Regions from separate parts of the Homo sapiens genome. Here region 1 is linked to region 2. The links come from fine-mapping of genetic effects on gene expression. A gene starts in region 2. The other region holds a variant in brackets. All regions are shown on one strand. Distances are between the middles of the regions.

What was found. PIP is the estimated chance that this variant, and not a neighbour inherited with it, causes the effect.
Region 1: its variant is fine-mapped to the expression of ODAD2 in thyroid (GTEx, PIP above 0.99).

Annotation. Positions count from the first base shown.
Region 1 is chr10:27,814,504-27,825,002 of GRCh38, reverse strand. All of the region lies in intron 19 of ODAD2 (outer dynein arm docking complex subunit 2), which reads left to right. Among named protein-coding and RNA genes, the nearest start is that of MKX, 74 kb to the right of the region's middle. The variant C/G (reference allele first, on the strand shown) is at 4,582.
Region 2 is chr10:27,993,544-28,004,042 of GRCh38, reverse strand. It overlaps ODAD2 (outer dynein arm docking complex subunit 2), which reads left to right and starts at 4,964. Exons shown (of 20, transcript NM_018076.5): 1 at 4,964-5,049; 2 at 8,863-9,124. The coding sequence starts at 8,901. It overlaps LOC112268060 (a long non-coding RNA gene), which reads right to left. Exons shown (of 3, transcript XR_002957065.1): 2 at 9,651-9,734; 3 at 8,892-8,975. RefSeq lists an enhancer at 8,360-9,559.

The DNA.
Region 1 (10,499 bases), 180 kb after region 2:
CTTTTGAGGTGTCATTTTTATATCCAAGTGGAGATGTCAAGTAGGAAGCTGAATAGTCTAGAGTTCAGGTCAGGGCTGGAGACTTAAAATTCTGGGGAAATCTCAGTAAAATCCAGCTTGTTCCACTGTTTGACTATTTTATACATACAACCTTTCCCCAAGAAATCTATTTCCAAATAGTCTCTCAGAAAATGGATCTAACAACAGAATACAGACAGCCAACAGATTTTCAATCTCATGCCAATGGGAGAGAACCCAAGTTAAATGCAGGCACTATATTCAGAGTTTATATCAAGAGGGCAATTTTCTTACAGTCTGGAGGAAACCTATGGATTGTTTCAAATAAAGAGATCTATGGATCGTTCTAGATAATTTAATTCATGTCTTTGCTTACCTGTGGGGTTTTAGTCCATTTTCTGCTGCTATAACAGAATATAGACTGGGTAATTTATGAGGAAAAAAAATTATTTCTCACAGTTCTAGAGGCTGGGAAGTTCAAGAGCATGGCACCAGCATCTGTCAAGGGTCATTCCATGGCAGAAGGGCAGTAGGTGGAAGCAAGTACATGAGACAGAGAGCAGATGGGGGCCAAACTTACCCATTTATTAGGAGCCCAACCCCCCTGTAACAGCATTAATCCGTTCATAAGGGCAGAGCCCTCAGGTCTTATTCACTTCTTAAAGGCCCCACTTCTTAATACTGTTACAATGTCAATTAAGTTTCAGCATGAGTTTAGAAGGGGACAAAATTCAATCCATAGCAGGATTTGATGTTCTCCTAGACTAGAGACTGATACAAGAGAAAACAGTAATTTGAATAAGAACTTATTGAACTATTTTTTTTTTTTTTTTTTTTTTTTTTTTTGAGACGGAGTCTCGCTGTCGCCCAGGCTGGAGTGCAGTGGCGCAATCTCGGCTCACTGCAGGCTCCGCCCCCTGGGGTTCACGCCATTCTCCTGCCTCAGCCTCCCGAGTAGCTGGGACTACAGGCGCCCGCCACCTCGCCCGGCTAATTTTTTGTATTTTTAGTAGAGACGGGGTTTCACCGTGTTAGCCAGGATGGTCTCGATCTCCTGACCTCGTGATCCGCCCGCCTCGGCCTCCCAAAGTGCTGGGATTACAGGCGTGAGCCACCGCGCCCGGCCTGAACTATTTTTATGAACATAGAGATGTGTTAGTTCTAATGCCTTGACTTTTGTTTTTGACTATCTAACGGGACACCATGAACCTTATGTTAATGTATTAATTTTCAATGTAACTAGATTAAAATTGCTTATTTGGATCAGTCCAACAGGAACTGTAGCAGAGAAAATGAGCTAACAGCAAATATTAATGCCTCTGGTCAACAACAGTCTCCAAGTCAATATAACAAGAGTAATAATAATAACAACTATAATTTAGGGGCACATAGCATGAGCACTTTACATTACGTTTCCCATTTAATCCCATATCTATCTTATTAGGAAAGTACTATTAAAAATCCTAATTTTACTGATAAGAAAACTAAGGTTTAGAGAGAGTTACCTCAGGTCACATACAGTTAGGAAGATGTGAAGTCAGGATTCAAATTCAGACTGTCTGAACTCAAAGCATAAACTCATAGCCACTTTACTGCATAATCTATGGGAATATTTTTTTCCAGAGAATTGCCATCTACACTTTGATCTAACCAATAGCAAAATGCAATTCTAAACAATCTTATCCACATAGATTTTTTTAATCCATCCTTATCCTATTATTTCTTTAGCATTCTTATGTAGGAAGCCCCTATGTGTGCCAATATTCTTTATATTTAATAGGAATAAAAATCCAAGAGCAACTTGAGGCCATTCCAAATGACACCATGAGCTTCTGCCCTGGGCAGGCAGAAACTTATCACTTCCTTTTCCTCTGATATAGGGTGCTGAGCAATGTCCCACAATTCCCTGACCCAGCCAGTCATCAAGTCATTCTCCATTTCTAGCATTTTTAGAAGAAAGTCAATAGGGCTCTCTCTATTATATATCCCATTTCTACTCCCAATACTATAGACCCAATGTGCGAGTCTCCTGTCTGTCTGTTTGGGCATTAAAGCTCTCTAGTGGAAAGTTCGTGAAGAAACATGGAAGAAAACCCAGAGGATAAACTTAGGAATGTCCACACAGAAAGAGCACTGGATCCAATAAGCAGATCCAAGTTTTGCAGACATGGACCTCAGATCACACACACACCTATCACCTTGAGGAGGACAGACACCAATAAAGGCAAGCCCCTTGACTCCCTTCACTGACCAAATAGAACCAAAGGTTTTGCTCCAGCCAGCAAATGTTAAATATGTTTTGAGGCCCCCGGCTTTGGTGAGCTGTCATGTGAAATGAATTACCGAGGCTCAGAGTCTGGATGTGCAAGAAACTGCAGTGGAGCCTCTGTTGGAAGAGCAGCAGAACCCCAGCCAACTCAAATAGTTGGGAAGCCATTCCATAGGCGGACACAGTCCAAAGGCATTTCTTGTTACTGGGTTGTGCATGAGTGCTACAACGTCACTGCAATGCCTTGTAAACAGGAGAATGTCAGAAGGGTTCCCAGTTCAAATCAGCTCTGGGCACTTAAGATCTTTTGGGAAAACCCCTAAGCCTGGTAGGCATTCCAGAGCTCATCCAGCTCTAATTAAAACTCCTGATTCTAGGCTGTGTTCACCCAAACAATGTCAAGTCAAACCACAAGAAAATCTGTTATCACTCAAATTGGTACATACTTTTCATACAACTGAAATATTATATAAAATCATAAACTGTTAAATGGAAATGTAAAAATTGAATGCAGACCCAATTCCCATGCTACCTTTGTCACACCTTCCAGGAGATGTGAACTGTGGGTCACAGCTGCATGCCGAGGGCATGAACCTTAAGATCAAAGCCTTTTACACCAGAGGAAGCATTGGTGTTAACCCAATCTACAAACCAGTCCTTGTGCCTGTCCCCACGTTCTTGTTCACTCCAGTGTTGTAAAAAGTTATTTGTTTGAATGATGTTTTAAAGTGCTCTGTGCAGTTAAGTTTTCAAAAGCGTGGGGGCTAGTTTTCCTTCAGTGTATATATGAAACTCCCAATAAATTTAAAGTCTTTAGGTGTGTTTTAGGGGAGGCGGAGGATTAAAAAGAGAAAAGTTTGAAAGGAACAAGGACTTCAAAAAGGTAAGCCCCTTAGAATATTAAAACATGTCTTTATAGTTGGAAAGAAAGTCTATAGATAAAAAAATAGATACCAAAAAAGTGTATACCAATTTCATAATCACTTGTACCAAATTTGTAGTTCACTTTCCTGAGAAAACTATTCCTTTTATGTAATTATGACAAAGAGATTAGAAACTGCCCTCACCTTGCTCCGTGTGTTAGTGATTTGAAAACACGAACTGCACTTTCATTTATATTAGCTCCACATCAAATTCAGGATTTTGTACCAACTTTCTGTTGTGCGAGTATTTGCTAGTTTTAAAGAAACTAGTGCCTTAGTTTAAAGAAATTAGTGCCTTAGTTTGCTTGTGAGGCTCGTAGGAAAATGAAAACATATTCCTGAGCCCAATTCAAAACCAAGACACATATATGCTACATATTTTTCAGATGGTGGTTTGGGACAGTAACATAACCTTATTCAATTTGTAAAACACCTTTAGATGCCTAGCCCCTCTGGGTGTATAACAAAGCAATGAGTAACAGTTATTGAAAATAAAGTAAAACTCGGGAAAAACAATACAGTTAGTTAGCGGCAAAACTCAAAGAGGGTCTTGGGGGTACTTCTCAAATATTCATACCCGGAGCACACAGAAAATTCTAGACTTCCAATTCTACACCCTTGATTGAGACTGTACTTAGCTAAGTAAAATGGACAGAGCAGGCTAAATTCAGCAGTAAAGAATAAATCATAGTTCTTCAAAATAGTGGAATGCTGGCTGGGCACGGTGGCTCACGCCTATAATCCCAGCAATTTGGGAGGCTGAGGTGGGCAGATCACTTAAGATCAGGAATTTGAAACCAGCCTGACCAACATGGTAAAACCCTGTCTCTACTAAAAATGCAAAATTAGCCGGTGTGGTGGCGCATGCCTGTAATCTTAGCTACTCAGAGGCTGAGGCAGGAGAATGGCTTGAATCCGGGAGTCAGAGGTTGCAGTGAGCTGAGATCACACCATTACACTCTAGCCTGGGCAACAGGAGGAAAACTCCATCAAAAAAAAAAAAAAAAAAAAAAAAGTTGCTGGGCTTCATTGGTTTAATTGTTAAGCTAAAATTTAACCAACCAGCATATGGGATATAGAATGAAGCCTTGTGGTTAATGTGAGAAACTTAAGGCAAAATAAATTCCCCAACAAAGAGTAATCCTCTTGGTACACTCAGGACTAGAAGTTACTCAGGTAAAGAAAAATTTAATTTATAGAATAGAGTCATAAAAAGGGTACCTGCTTAGATTAAAAGTTTTCTTCTAACGTAAGTCTTGTGAACACACAGGAGATGCTGTTTCCAGCAACCCTTATCTGGTTGACTCCGGGAATAGCCAACACACAGCAGCTTTCTGTATGCCAAACATTATGACTCATATGCTTGACACT[C/G]ACAGTCCATTGGTTTATGCAGTGGGAAATTATGTAACTGGATCAAGAGTTTGGGAATAAATACAACCGACTCTTAGAAAGCCCAAGCAGAGACTGCAGAACAATGACCAGGTCTGAGGGAGGATGGGCGAAACGCAGGCTAGATTTTGACAGGCATCAGGTCAAGGGTTTCCTTTCCAAGAGAGCCGTACAGGGTGGCAGCAGCCAGTGGCATGTGGAGCCTGGGCCATTGGTGTCCATGGAGGTCAGCCAGCGACAAGGCAGGGCCTGGAGCAGGTGCTGACAGAAGCTAGACTGACCTCTGGGCCAAAATTCCCTCTTCCTTCCAAACTAACCAGGCCAGGCCTCCAGGAAATAACACCAGAACCAGACTTCTGAACTGGCAAAAGAATCACCATGAGCGTGAGTAGCATTCATGGAACGCTTGCTTTGTATTGGGCACTGGACTATGCGATTCAAATGCATAACCCATATGAAGCCAGGCTGCCTCTTGGTCCAGTCCTGATCTAAAAATGCAGTCAGAGAAACAAAAGCCTAGCAACCCAATAGCACTTGAAAGTATTTTTTTCTTTCCTTTTTTTTTTTTTTAAAGAGATAAGGTCTCTTAAATCTAGATGCATTGTGCTGATCACTCCTTCCTAGAAAAATCACTATCAAACCATAGTCAAGGGTATGGGTTTTGAGGTCACAGCAATGGCGCAATCATAGCTCACTGCAGCCTTGAAGAGCTGGGCTCAAGCCATCCTCCCGTCTCAGCCTCTCAGACCCACCCAGCTACCTAGACTACAGGCGCACGTGACCACACCTATGTCTGGTTAACTTTTTTTTTTTTTTTTTTTTTTTTTTTAAGAGACAGGGTCTCACTATGTTGCCCAAGATGGTCTTGAACTTCTGGCTTCAAGCCATCCTCCTGCCTTGGCCTCCCAATGCACTGGGATTACAGGCATCCACCCGGCCTGAAAGTAATTTGAATCCTAGTTTTACTCTCTCGAAGATAGAGAGTACAATCATGCACTATTAAGCTTTAAGTCCTTAATCTTTCATAGTATATCTCTCTCACCCCAGAGTTGCCTTTAAAATAATCTTTCTACTCCAAACCCCTCAAACTCTTCAAAACAGGGTGAAGTTCTCTTTCCCCCTTTTTCATTCCTTCTATTTCTGTTGCTCTTTTCTGTCCCATAAGGAGTCCTCTGCCCTTGCCAGTGTAAATTCCCCCGACCTGTGCTCCTCCACTCTTCCCTCCCACACACTGCAGACTTGGGTTTGCAGAAGGCTGGGGGAATCATCAGACAAAATAGGAAGGGGAAAGATCAAAGGACGTAAAGAAAGGAAGAGACTGTGAATACAGGTGTTCAAACATCTATTAAAGATGTATGTTTAATTCATCTTTGCAGTGACCCCCAGAGGTATGTGATCCCTTTACACATATGAGAAGGTTGGGTTAAGAGGTTCAGTGATGTGCCCAGTGACTGGGAGAGTCAGAGTACAGATCCAAGATGCTGTGACCTCAAAACCCATACCCTTGACTATGGTTTGATAGTGATTTTTCTAGGAAGGAGTGAACAGTATAAGGCATCTAGATTCCTTCTCAGGTAGTTGAGCTATGGACTAGGACTTTATTTCACTTCTTTCCAGATTTAAAAAGCAACAATGACCAGAACTATGAGCGGGGAGGCCAAGGACTGGAGCAGAAGCGAGGCGGGTGGCCATGAGAGGTAGATATTAGGTGGAGTTGCTGTAGCTAGCAATCTATTCTCCTCCTATTACCTAAACAACAAATATAGGGCAATTGGAGACTAGATTTTTTTCTAAATCTCATTTGCGTATGGAAATCAAGCTCTTAGTATAGGATTAGGTCCTCTAATCCAGGGCCCAGAAACACCTACAGGTAACTGGCATTATTCATTGTGATGACCTGGCTGTAATAACAAAATTCATAAAGTAATAATTATTGTCTATTAAAGTGATTGACTGTTGGGAGAGTTTTTCTGCTATATTTTGTATAACAATGGAGTCAAGACAGGGACTCATGAACCCTTATGAATCATCTACTTGGGAGAAGGAGTGAGAAAATAACTCAGGTAAAAGGGAAATTAATAACTTTAAAATCCTATAATCGAGGGGTTATACAATTATGTAATCAAAGGATCAAGTCAATCCCTTGATTATATAATTTACCAAGAAATTAGTTGGAACGTTTTGTTTTGATATAAGAAATAATTTAAAGATCAGAAAGCAGAAGTGAGGAAAAAACAGGCCCATTGGGCATAGAGACATATGAATATCAGGATCCATTGGCATCCAGGCTGGCAGCGCTCACATTCAATTATTTGGTAGTGATGTGGAAGAGTGAAATCTCCAGGCTTACAGTTGGCACTCCATACTCCAGGATAACAAAGGTTACCATGGTGGATGTGGGCTACGAGGAGGTCAGTAAAAGCCATGTGAGTATGAAAAATGGTGAATGGTGCGAAGTATGTATCTAGAAGAAATCGTCTAAATTTCATAAAGTTGTATCTGCTTTAAAGACTGTCTGTAAACAGCCATTTGATCCAGCAATCCCCCTACTGGATATATACCTAAAGGGAAAGAAATCACGGTGTCAAAAACATACCTGCACTTGTATGTGTATTGCGGCACTATTCACAATAGCAAAGATATGGAATCAACCTAAGTGCCCATTCATAGAGTATTGGATTTTTAAAATGTGGTACATATATGCCATAGAATGCCTACTCAGTCATAAAAAAGAATGAATCATGTCTTTTGCAGCAACATAAATGGAACTGGAGGCCCTTATCCTAAGTGAAATCACTCAGAAACAGAAAGTCAAAACTGCATGTTCTCACTTATTAGTGAGAGCTAAACAAGGGGTACACATGGAATAATAGACATTGGAGACCCCAAAAGATGGGAAATGGGGAGGGGGAATGAGGGTTAAAAAATTACCTATTGGGTGCAGTGTTCACTATATGGGTGGTGGGTGCATTAAAAGCCCAGACTTCACCACTGTGCAATATATGCATGTAAGAAATTTGCACTTGTACCCTCGAAATATATCCAAAATTTTTGAAAAGAATTTTAACTGTCTATACAGTAAAGTGAGGTATAAACAAAGAGATCAATAAAAATTCTGAACCATAGATCATGAGTTAAAAGTTGTGAGCTAGGAAAGGGATTTAAGTGTGAATAGCTATACAAAGACATGTAAGCCATGTGTTAGGATAACCAAAGAGAGTGGCTACTCTGTTCTTCCTGCTCGTTATTTTTTACATTATTTCCTCTTCCTACAGTGAGAGAGGGAGAATGAGAATATAAAAGTGTGTATGCATGCATGCATACATCTGTGTGTATGTATAAAACTGCATAACAGGCCGGGCACGGTGGCTCATGCCTGTAATCCAAGCACTTTTGGAGGCCGAGACGGGTGGATCACCTGAGGTCAGGAATTAGAGATCAGCCTGGCCAACATGGCAAAACCCCGTCTCTACTAAAAATACAAAAATTAGCTGGGTGTGGTGCCACACGCCTGTAATCCCAGCTACTCAGGAGGCTGAGGCAGGAGAATCACTTGAACCCCAGGGGACGGAGGTTGCAGTGAGCCAAGATGACACCACTTCACTCCAGCCTGGGCAAAAGAGCGAGACTTGTCTAAACAAACAAACAAACAAAAAACTGCATAACAATCTTATACTGACCTACATTCCCATGGTCATACCATGGATCTTGTCAATACTCAAAGGAACTTCATCTGTAAAATCTTAAACTCCAAATATCTCATTCTCAGATGAGAATGTCTTATTTTCACCCTTTTCCTATGCTTTGGTCCCACCTAAACTGTTTTCCTGCATTGTTGAGGCCTCACTTCCTAATTCTCCCAGTGATCAGTAGCCTCCTGTTTTCACTTCCCTTCCAGCCCAGCACAGACCATATGGCTGTTCAAATGAATCACAGTCCTATAATCTATTTCCTCTGTGTTATGCCTAGGATATTGAACGATGCTGGAGAAAAGGAATGATACAAAACTCCCAAGGCATGAGCCCCTCCAAACTTCCCTGTTTCCCTCATACAGAACAGAATCTTCCTTTCTCTTGAATCTCAGAAGATTGATCCTGTCTTATTTCTTCCTGTTTCTCAAAAACATTGTATCTTATTAGTGAATTTCACAATTTAGGCAATTACTCTAGATACAGTATGAATAGTTCATCAGACAGGGACAAGACAGGGTGCAGGGACAGTGGGAAGTAGGCTTTACTGGGGTGAATGACAATAGCAATAAAGAGAAGTGAATGACTTTGAAATATGTGTAGGCAGCTGAATCACAAGAATATGATAATCAGTTGGATGCAGCATAGGGGAGATGAGGGTGGGAGTGAGTGTGAGGCACGCAGATTTCCGTCTTGAACAACTAAGTGATAACATCTATTATGGATACAGGAAAATACTTGGAAAGAGATTCATGTTTATATAGAAAAAATAAAAAATTTCATTTGGAATCTATTAAGCTTGAGGTGGCTGTGAGACTTCCAAGTGGAGATGGCTAAGAAGTGTTGGATATGAAGTGTTCCATTCCAAAGAGGTTTCTGGGGTGGAGATAGAAATTTAGAAGATGGTTCCATATGAATGCCATTTGAATTCAGGTAGTGAAAGATGTCATCTAGGGAGGGGGAACAGAATGAAAACAGAAGGGGAATTTGTTCTGATGAACTCTAACAATTTTTGTTTGGGGGAAGCAGACAGAGCCATGGATGAAGATTGAGAAGATGAGAATGAATGGATACGAGGAAAAGCAGGGGAGTACGGTAGAAGAAGCCAGTGGCAGAGAAGGAGGAAGTGGCCAATTATATCAAATGCTGTTAAGGGGTCAAATAAGATGAAAACTCCTAAGTGTCCACTACTCTTAGCCACATGGAAGGAAGTTACTGACATCCTCTGAGAGGGTTATTTCAGAGGAGAGCTGAAGGCAGACAGCAGCCTGGAGTCAGTGGGATGGAATTTAAGACTGGAGATAGGAATTCCAGACAACTCTTTAAAGAAATTTGGCTATGAAGGGAAGAAAATGGGGTCAAAGTGGTGTCTTTTTGTTTTGTTTTATTTTTAATGTGTAAGACGTGTTTAAATGATAATGGAATCATTAGAAAGGAAGAGGTGAAAGCTAAAGTAGAAGAGAAACAGGGAGTATTTGGTAGTAAAATGTCCTAAGAAGAAGAATGAATGAAGAATACAAGTGGATGGTGGGCCTTGGATAGGAGAGAGCCATTGTAACTGGAAGGTAGGATAAAAAGATCTGCTAAGACGCTGGCATGGTTGCCGTTTTAGGTAGAGTTGTTGCTGTCTAATGGCTTCGATCGAGTTTATGAAGGAGACCTTATTGGTCATCTTCTGGAAATGGGGGCTAAAAAGAAGAACTGAAGATTGAAGAAGAAGGAAGATTTAAAATAGGCATTGGAAAGGGAAAGTAACCTAATGAGAGGGACACAAATTTTGATTGCTGGGCAGTGAATGAGAATCCAGTTGAGGTTGAACTGATAGAGGATGGATTTGCCTTGTTGTTGACATATGCCTCCCGCAGGACTCAGTTATTGGTGAAGGCACAGGGAAGAACAGAGTTGGATTTATGGACAGTTATGGTTTTCCTGGAGGGATGTTGTAAGGAGGTTTAAGAAACTGATAAGAGAATGATTCAAAAGACGGACTATGCAATCTAAGCTGGTTATGGAGGAAGCAAAGACGGAAGATGGTTAAAGGAAAAGTATGTGAGCCCATGGACAAGAGATCATGATGAGAACAAACAAGTAAGATGGTTGCATAGCCAAATCGTGGGAGGAGACATTGTGGTCAGAGAGTTTGGAGGTCAGACTGTTGAAAGTGATGAAAAATCAGGGCCCAGATGTAACTCTGAAGGTGGAAGGCTGAAG
Region 2 (10,499 bases):
GTGGACAGTAGGGGATGCAGTGGACTGTCAAGATATCTGAACCCATCCCACCTCTCCAAGACCAAAGCACTCCTGCCCTCAGCTGCTGGGGATTATGGGCAGATGATAGCCCTCAAATGAAAGAGTAAGGTTATGCCCTATTCCTGGGGACAGCCTGCACCCAGGGACTGGCTGATAATGATCAGTTGATGAGAAGATCTAAAGGTCCAGCCCCTTTGCCTCAATATGGGAAAACTGCTGGGCCATCCCAGCTTCAGGGCTCTCTGTGGGATGGTTGTGGCTGCATGGCAGTTCAGCTTCTCTCTCGGTCTAATCTCCTTGCCTTCACTCTCCTGAGGGCACTTCTCAATACATTTCTTACATGCCCTTCTCTATCTCAGAGTCTATTTCTCAGGGGAACCTGAGGCCAGGTGTCTTATTAATAGTCTCTTTCTTTCTACTCATGCATTTCTCTAGTTTACTTCCACTGTGTAATCAGAACAGCTTCTTAACAAGAGAAATCGGAGCATGTCACTCCCTGCTAAAAATCTTCCAGTAACTTTCATTTATTCTTGGAAGAATATTTCAATTGTTATCATGGCTTAAATGTTCCACCTCATGCAGTCCTTCCCACCGATTCAGTCTCTTCTCCTTTCTCTCCTTTGCTACTGTGCTTCATGCCAGTGGCTCTCCTTCTAGTCCAGGAATTCTGAGTTGAGTTTAGTAGGCTCCTTTTTTGGCTAGGACTTGAATTGGATAATCGAGTTCTGCCAATGGAGTGCCTGGCACAAAATGGCATCCAAAAAGCATTTATTGAGTAAATGAATGTCTAGGAGATTAGAATCTAAGGAGAAGGAGCCATTTCATTTCCAGGCCGTGGGCCTTGGTCCACAATGCATCACTGAGAAATATCAGAGGGCAAAGGGAGGCAGCTGAGGCTGCACTTCTCTGACTTTTTGTCTTTATCTATGAGAGAGGGTAGAATCTGGTGAATTTGGTTTTTAGGACTTCGTAAGACTTCATGCAATTTTCTCTCATGGGAATTTCTGTTGAAAACTCCTAAAAAATTCCACAGAGAGGCAATTCCGCCCTATAATGAGACTTACCCCCATTACGACAAAATATAAATGACTGTAATTCCCTGCAAACCTCAGGAGGTTTATTTCATCTGTCTTAGTCCTTTCCTGATTGAGGTACTGGATGCTTAAACCAACCTTGCCTCTTACTTTCTCCCTGGTTATGGCCTATAAATTCTTAGTCGGCTTCACTCTGACACAGATGAATGGGCGCTGGAAGCCTGCTGATCACATCTTTACATAATGCTATGTGTGACATTGTGTCCCCCTAAAATCGTATGCTGAAGTCCTAACCTCTAGTGTCTCAGAGTGCAACCGTACTGAACATAGGGTTTCTATAGAAGTAATCAAGTTAAAATGAGTTCATGAGGGTGAGTCCTGATCCAATATGACTGGTGTTCATAAAAAAAAGAGGAAATAAGCCAAGAGGAGTGTCTCACACCTATAATCCCAGCACTCTGGGAGGCTGAGGCAGGCAGATCACTTGAACCCAGGAGTTCAAGACCAGCCTGGGGAACATGGCGAGACCCCATCTCTACAAAAAAAAAAAAAAAAAGCCCACAAAAATTAGCTGAGTATGGTGGTGCATGCCTGTAGTCTCAACTACTTGGGAGGATGAGGCAGGAGGATCACTTGAGTCTGGGAGGTCGAGGCTACAGTGAGCCGTGATTGCACTATTGCACTCTAGCCTAGGTCCTGTCTCAAATTCAGAAATTTGTGTACAGAGACAAGCACACAGGGATAACATCATATGAATGTGAAAACAACCATCTACAAGCTGAGGAGAAAAGCCTGGAATCGATTCATTCCCCATAGCTCTCAGAAGGGATCAATCCTGCCAACACCTTGATCTTGGACTTCTAGCCTCCAGCACTGTGAGATAAGACATTTCTGGTATTTAAGCCGCCCCAGTCTGTGATACCTTGTTACAAAAGCCCTAGCAAATTAATGTGTGCAATCTGTGTCTGAACTCTCTGATACATGAGAGGAACAGATTTGCCCAAGCCAGGGTGGATGGTTTCATAAGAATCCCTGTAGATCGGCAGTCCCCAACATTTTTGGCACCAGGGACCAGTGTCATGGCCAACAATTTTTCCATGGATAGGGTGTGGGGGAGGGGATGGTTTCAGGATGATTCAAGCTCATTACATTTCTCGTGCACTGTATCTCTACTATTATTACATTGTAATATATAATGAAATAGTTATACAGCTCACCATAACGTGGAATCCGTGGGAGCCCTGAGCTTGTTTTCCTGCAACTAGACGGTCTCATCTGGGGGGGATGAGTGACAGGGACAGATCATCAGGCATTAGATTCCCATTAGGAGCTTGTAACCTAGATCCTTCGAATGCACAGTTCACAATAGGGTTCATGCTTCTATGAGAACCTAATGCCACTGCTGATCTGACAGAAGGTGTGGCGTGTGGGTGGGGTCCCTGCTGTAGATGACGTAATGTTGCGGAGGTGGACCAAAAACTATCAAGTTTTTCCCAGGAGCCTGTGGCAGATTTTCTCTAAAGTTTCAGTGGACAGCGCTGCACCATGTGCTTGCACTCTAGCCATGGGCAGGGCTGGTAAAGGCCTCTGGTACAGCAAACCCCGGGTGTGCCCTCAGTGATGAAGGCTCTTTCCAAGATCACGGCTACTTAGAATCCTCAGGCTGGTTCTATTAACCCTAAGAAAATGTGGGCCTTGCCTTTCTGGTGCTTGGTGAAGAGTGTCAGGAAGCAAGGCATCTTTGACTAGGCGATTCATGAATTTAGCTCCTTCTACGTGCCAGTCATCCTTCTAGATCTTAGGAGTACAGACTTGAAGGAGGCAGAAAAGCTCCCTATTTTCATAAAGCTTACCTTGTAGGGGTAGCAGATGGGCAACAAGGCAAAGACAAGTTATGGCCAGGCACAGTGGTTCATGGCTGTAATCCCAGTGCTTTCGGAGGCCATGGCTGGAGGATCACTTGAGCCCAGGAATCAGAGGCTGCAGTGAGCTATGCTTATGATTATGTCACTGCACTCTGCACTCCAGCCTGGGTGACAGAATGAGACCTCGTCTCAAAAAAAAAAAAAAGAAAAAAAAAAAACAAGTCATGATAAATCCTTCAGGGAGTGACTGGGCCCAGGTAGTGTTTCATCACGACAAGGAAAAATTGGAAAGAGGCGACTGGGACTTCTTCAGATTTAAATATTATTAAGTTATTTTTGCTTGGAAAATATCCGGTAAAATAAATTCACATTTTGGCATCAGATTAAGCAACTTGGCATGAATTTGGCAAACAACGACATAGTTGCTCAGATCTTGGTGGGTTCTGGCTTTTTCCAGCTTTGCAAACCAAGGTGAAATGTCCTGAACTTGGAAGATCTCTGGCTGGCATCCACATTGGACCCAGTAATGCTCCCTTATGTCATACAGCTGATTAAAATGTGCAGAGGAACTAAAGTACCCACAGAAGCTTCCTTGCTTCCAGGACTGGGACTACTCCAGGATCCTTCCGAAGGATGCCCTCTGCTCCTCACCAGGTTGTGACCTGCATTACCGCCACAGGTGTGATGCTGTTGTCTCAGACTGTAATCCACCCATTTTTAAAAGGGCTTCTCTGTATACCTATTAGCATAAGCCCCTTTCTCACTGGTTGCAAGTCTAAGCTTCTCTGCAGGTAGTATCTCCTTTAGGTGAAACTATTCCATTCCTAACAACTTTCGCACTTTCAAAAAGAGAAGAAAAGAACCCAAAACAGGCCAGGCATGGTGGCTCATGCCTGTAATCCTAGCACTTTGGGAGGCCGAGGTGGGTGGATCACTTGAGGTCAGGAGTTCAAGACCCACCTGGCCAACATGGTGAAACTTCGTCTCTACTAAAAGTACAAAAATTAGCCGGGCATGGCGGCGCATTCTTGTAATCCCAGCTACTCAGGAAGCTGAGGGGGGAGGATCTCTTGAACCCGGGAGGCAGAGGTTGCGGTGAGCCGAGATGGGAGGCAGAGGTTGCGGTGAGCCGAGATCGTGCCACTGCACTCCAGCCTGGGTGATAGAGCCAGACTTCGTCCCCCACCCTCCAAAAAACCCAAAACAAAGGACAAATATCTATACCTCATATCCCTACGTGTTTGCAGAAAGGTTCTGCTTTGAGCTGAATCCGTATAATATTATGACAGGTGATATCCTAACATCATTCCACATTTGCCTCTTTGGCATCCGGAAAAGAATCCAGTTTTAATTCCTAAACACCCCATCATCCTAAGTGCTCCGGCATTGGTCCTTAAACACCGTGTCCCCCCACCCCAAGATAGTGCATTCTTCCCCATCCCCCCCCACCTCAATATTCCCACTCCTTTATCCCTCACTGGTGTTCCAGTTGGGGCTCTTGCTGGTAGGGTGTCTAGAGGTGGGGTCAAAACCATCTTAATGGACAAAGGTAAAGGCCATTTAAAAAAAGAGATGGGGGACATGTTTTCATTTCACTCCGATCCTCTGCCCTATTGAAGAGCGCTTTCTGCTTTCCCGGTGAGTATCAGAGTATTCTACCATATTTGTTTTTTTGGAGAGAAACATGTAAGCCTCAAATATCCTAGGAGAAGCCCTATGCTATTTGGGGGTACTCAGTGAAGATTTCAGGTACATACAACGCACTTGTCTGGAAGCCTATGGAAAAATGTAAAAAGGGGTTTCTAAGGAATATTTTCTGCTTCCTTTCTGCTCCATTTTAAGTTTTCTGCTAACTTGCCGCCGACCCCGCAACTGCTCACGACCTCTGTCAAAGTCAACCTTTCCCACCGCGTGGAGTGAGTTAGGGTGCACACTCGGGAGTTGCATAAAAGTGTTTGAGAAAGGGAGATGCAAAGTTGAATAAAAGTGTTTCCCGGGAGGGGCCGAGCGGAAAGCAGCAGGTGGCCGGGGCGGGTGGAACCCAGCGCGGGCGCAGAGCGTCTCTGGCGCGGGCATACGGTGCAACGGGTCCGCGGGAATCTTGGATGCGCGGAGGTCCCGAGACCAGGGTAACGGACTGGGCTGCGGTCGCGGCCGGGTGAGGCTGGGAGCGGAAGGCGGCGGCGGCGGCGCCCGGGGGAGGGCACGGGCCCTGTAGGCCTCCCACAAGGGCGCCGGCGTGCGCGGCCGCAGGGCGCGCAGTGTTGACCCGCGTCCTAGCAACAGGCGGGCGCCGACTGCGGGGGGCAGGGTGCTGCAGGTGAGTGCGGCTGGGGGTCTCCACGCTCACCCCCGCAGGGGTTCTGCAGCCGCCCGCGTGGATCGGGAAACAGAGGCGGCTCTCTGGCCCCGCCGCTGCCGCTCTCGCCTGCTCCCCTTTCCCTCCCGGGGACCAAGACCCGCCCCCTTCCCTTCTCTCTCCCAGCCCCATCTCACTCCTTCCTCCCCGCGAGACCCTGCCTCGGCCCTAGGTTGGGGACCGTCTGCTCCTCAGTCCCTGCGCCCCTCTCTGCACTACCTCGGCCCCATCACCTCCCGGATCCGCTCTCCACTTCTCCCGCCGCTTCCCTGCCTCTCCTTCCCCCAGCCCGTCTTTCTCCTCCGCCCTTTGCAGCTCTGCCTCCCGCTCCCAGCGTGGTTTTCGCCGTCCCTTCCCTCCTCGTCCCCTTACCGAATCCATTCCTGGAAACTTAGGGTCTCAGCTCTGACGCCCCCTTCTTGTAACGAGTCTGGTGGGGGCCGTCATCCCACACTAGGCTTAGCTTTGGTTTTACTTAGGGCCCTGTTCATGTCATGTCTAAAAGTTCGATTTTCTGTCGGTCTTACTGAGTAACTTCTGCATTCTCAGAAAGCAGTGTATGCGCGGACTCCCCGTGGATGTTACCAACCACATTTCATAGATCTCAGAGCTGATGGCTGCCTTTCCGTAGCCCCCTAAAGAATTCGGTTGTGCTTCTGTTTAAGTGTTAACGATGTGATTACCGAATGGGTTTCATTTCACTAATGATGCTGGAAGCTTGAAATTGACCTTTAGAAAGAAAAACAATCTGTGGTATCTATTGGATAAAGAGAAAAATGAGTGCTAAGTGATTCCCAGTTTATGTAAACATCCCAGTTTATGTAAACACGTAACCAAAACTTTTTTCCTTTTAATCTTTAAACTTACTTTCTTTACTTCAAAGGTGTGTGCTGTGTATTTACATGGATTCATTTTAACTATGGTTCTTAAGCCAAAAGAGCTTGGCAATGGGCAGAAACCGGGGAGCAACTGGTCTTGATTTTAAAATCTTAGTTTTGAGTTATGCCGACCATTTTTGAACACCATTTATTTATTTATTTATTTTCTAATAACATTGATCTTGCCTTCTGGATTGTCATAGGCCACCCTGAGGTTTTCTTAAACTCACCAACCTTCTTGAATAAAACTTGTGCATTGCTACGGTTCACTAGACTTGGAAATACAATTTGAATAGATTCAAATGTTACATTTCTGTCAAAATTTATCTTGACGAAAATAACGATTTTGCATTTCTTAATTCTGTGTTAAGGGTCCTTCAAGAAGTTACTATATGGTATGTTGACTACCATAGCGTTACATAATCTATTTAATTTCGCATTTTTTCTTTAAAAATGTGCAAGAAGCAATCTTTATAAGATTACCAAAACAAATGTTATACTTAAGATTAAAGACAGACAGAACTTTCACCTAAGCCTTTCTGTATAAGATAAAGCTATTTGCACTTATTTCACACTATTTTACACTGATTTGCACTTATTTTACACAACAATGGGAAATTCAAGAGTCTCACACATACACATCAGAACATGTTTATGTGTTTAAATCTAAAGCATTTCTCATCGGTTAGCAATAGAAACAAAATGCTAGAATACTAAAACAAACACCCAGAACAAATTTGTGCACTAATTTCTGCACTTTATTTCATGACCACTTTGGTATATATGTCTGGATCAGTTGTTCTCCACCCTATCTGATCCAGTACTTGGTTTTTATAGCATATATGTTGTAAGGCTGCTTTGCTATCCTGAAATCAATATCATAGATTATAATCTTACATATTTAATATAGTTTTAAATATTGATAGTGTGCTAACTGTAAAATGAAAGAAAATAATTGTAAGAAAAGATTGGCATGTAAACGCTCAAGTACCACTACACTAGAATATATAGGGAAGTAGTCAGATGTCCAGCCTTACACAGAATGACTGTGAACACAGCAGCCCCAAATGCAGACTGATACAGATGTGCCATTGCAACTTAAATTTCTCAAATAACATTGCCATCAATGGTGTCATTTTCCAAAATGCTGAGCTCTTGGTAAAATTCCATGTAAAACAAAATATGTACAACCTTCTTTTCGTTTATGGTAGCTACAATTCTGGAAAATTCAGGGTGTAATAAAACTGTGACAAAATACTCTGCAATTTTTGCAAAGTGCAGAAAAATTCTAGGCTCAGGTAGTGCTTATCTGAAGTTTTTCACTTACTAGATGCCTGGAGGTTACAGCAGAATTCTTCCTTCTGAGGTACTATCCTGCACAGGATATTTTACATTGTCGGTCCTCAACACTAAAGGCCGATAATGCCCCCTTTCCTATCATGTTGATAACTAGACATCTCTATAATATTTCTATACTCTTTATCAGCAGGAAGTACTGCCCTGTTGCCATCCAGTGATCTCCTGTGATTGAATTTAATAGATAGTTCAAAGATTTAATACAGTACAGAATGTAAAATCTCCAAGTCTAATCTTTGTACTTTAAGCCTTTTTAATAATGATGGGAGTAAAAAGCCAATTTTATTCTATATTTAACCGTATAACCATTCTTCTAATATTCTGGAAGAAAGATTTTATCAATAAGTGCTATACAAAAGAGAAAAGAAACAAGTATAGATTATCTGCCAAAAAAGCATTAAATGTTCATTATGAAGTCAGAACGTGCTTTCTAACTTGGCTCTTATTTAACGTTACAGATTTTGTTACTTTTTAAAAGATCTTCTTTTACAGACTAATTTCTATTTAGCCAATGTGAAATTTGTCTCACTTGAATTGGTTTTAAATTTTACTGCTAGACTCTTCTGATAACTAATTTAGATAAAAAGGCTGAAAGAGTCTCACTTATTCCTACATCTCTCACATTAACTCTTAAGAAGGTTGTGAATTACAGTAAAATGTCATCTGGGCAGGATATACAGGCAGGGAAAATAGTATTTGGATTGTCCAGATATTCTGGTAATAGGATCAATGTGTCCTGTATCAATTTTTAGAAAAAAAATTATATTTCACAATACTGTTCTTATTCTATTTCTTTTTTAACTCAGAATGCACTTGGGGAAACCAGAGCTACCAGAATCATGTTCTTCAGTCATCATTGTGATGATGCAGATATTGTCACTGTAAGAAAGTCGGGATAACAGTATTCAGTTTAATAGTGTAATTCTAAACAATGTGTGTCCTGGCTGAAAGGAATGTTTGTCCCTGAAACTGCTGGCTCCCAACAGAGCTGTGAACAAAAGCCCTTAATATAAACCTCTTCCACTTCCTTTTTTTTCCACTCTTGGAGTTTTCTATTTGGGTTTTATGCCTATCTGTTTGAATCCTCTCTCTTAGGCCCTAGGGAAATTAGAAAGAAGTTATTAATTTCAGGGCAAATACCGGAAATTTCTTAAATACTAGTCAGTTTTATCTAGTGCTGGTTTACTACTTCATTGAACTGAAGAGCAATTAGATAATGTTAAAAGAATCTTCCAAGATTAATAAGCAGAATGTGGGATGGGGAGTACTAGTTTAAAGTCTTGAGAATGAAAAATGTTCCAAGGAAAAGGTGGACGCTGTTGTCTCTTTCTCTTTCTGCTCTGATGTAGTGCGTGTGCTAAGCTCAGGTCTGAGCACGGTGGATCCCATGGGTGTGGCTCTGAGGAAATTGACGCAGTGGACTGCTGCCGGACATGGAACTGGAATCCTCGAAATCACCCCTCTAAATGAAGCGATATTGAAAGAAATTATTGTGTTTGTGGAGAGTTTTATCTATAAACATCCTCAAGAGGCAAAATTTGTTTTTGTGGAACCACTTGAATGGAACACAAGTTTGGCGCCCTCAGCATTTGAATCAGGTTATGTTGTCAGGTAAGCCAGTTACTTGCTTCTAGGATTTGATATCTTCGTTGTACATAGTATTATCAATTGGTTCTAGGTTTGGGGGCAAGTCACCTAACCTCTCTGAACCTCAGAAGCCCTCTAAACCAGGGAATGAAAACCAGAGACACACAGGTGAAGTCTGAGGATATTCAGCTTGGCCAACACAGTATCTTTCTAAGTTTTAAATTTTTCAAATTAAACAAAATTTTAATTTTTGTGGGTAAATTTCTTTTAACAGGGCATCCGTTATCCAGGTCACTACACTGCCAACATCCATTGCTGCTTTATGCCTGGCCTTTCCACCCATATGTGGAGATATATATACACATATATATACTTTTTACAGATGAGGTCTCACTATGTTGCCCAGGGTGGTCTCAAATTCCTGGCCTCAAGTGATCCTCCTGCCTCAGCCTTCTACAATGCTAGGGTTACAGGCATGAGCCACCACACCAGGTCATCCATATTCTTCTGAATTTTATTTCTATAAATGTATGGGGTACTTCCGTATTACCTGCCAGATGCCAGGAGCCATTGGTTTCGTGACCTCTGATGTAGATGAAATCTCTTCTGGTATTTAAATTGATCAATTCCTGGGCTAGAAGCAGGAGGCGGCGGGGAGGGGTGATGAATGATGAATTTTGATTTTGCCCAATATAAGGGAGAGAATTCTTAAGAATTACTGGTGTCCTCAGATTAGAGCCTTTCAAATCTGAGATGAAAAAAAATTTACTTCTGTCTCAAACAGTGAACTCTCAATCTATCTCATTCAAACATGGCTAAAATATATATATACACACACATACGCATAAATTATGTGAACAAATTAAATATAATTGTATAAGAATGTATTAGTTCATTAAGCATTATAATTATACAATAAGTAAGCTAACAAATACACACACACACACACACACACACACACACACACATATATATATATATATTTGCCAGCCTCAGTTTATTTTGCACCTTAGGCATTCTATTTTCTACCACCTTGTTCTTCTTTGTTCTGGATATGAACTTTTAAAGTCTGATCATATAAAAACAGTTCCCTAGCTAGCCAAAGCTTCCTGTAGATGCCTTTTCCCTTTTCTCCCTTTGGGATTATTTGTGAGAATAAAGTCAGAATTTCATTTTTAGAACTGCAGCAAAACCATTCTTAAACTGTATTTCAAAAGCTCTTTAATTCTTCTATTGGTCAGCCTTCTCTCTGAGTTGTTTGAAGTCATATTTATTTATTTATTTTTTTTTCTGGAGACAGAGTCTCGCTCTTTTGCCCAGGCTGGAGTGCAGTGGTGTAATCTTGGTTCACTGCAAGTTCCACCTCTCTGGTTCAAGCAATTCTCCTGCCTCAGCCTCC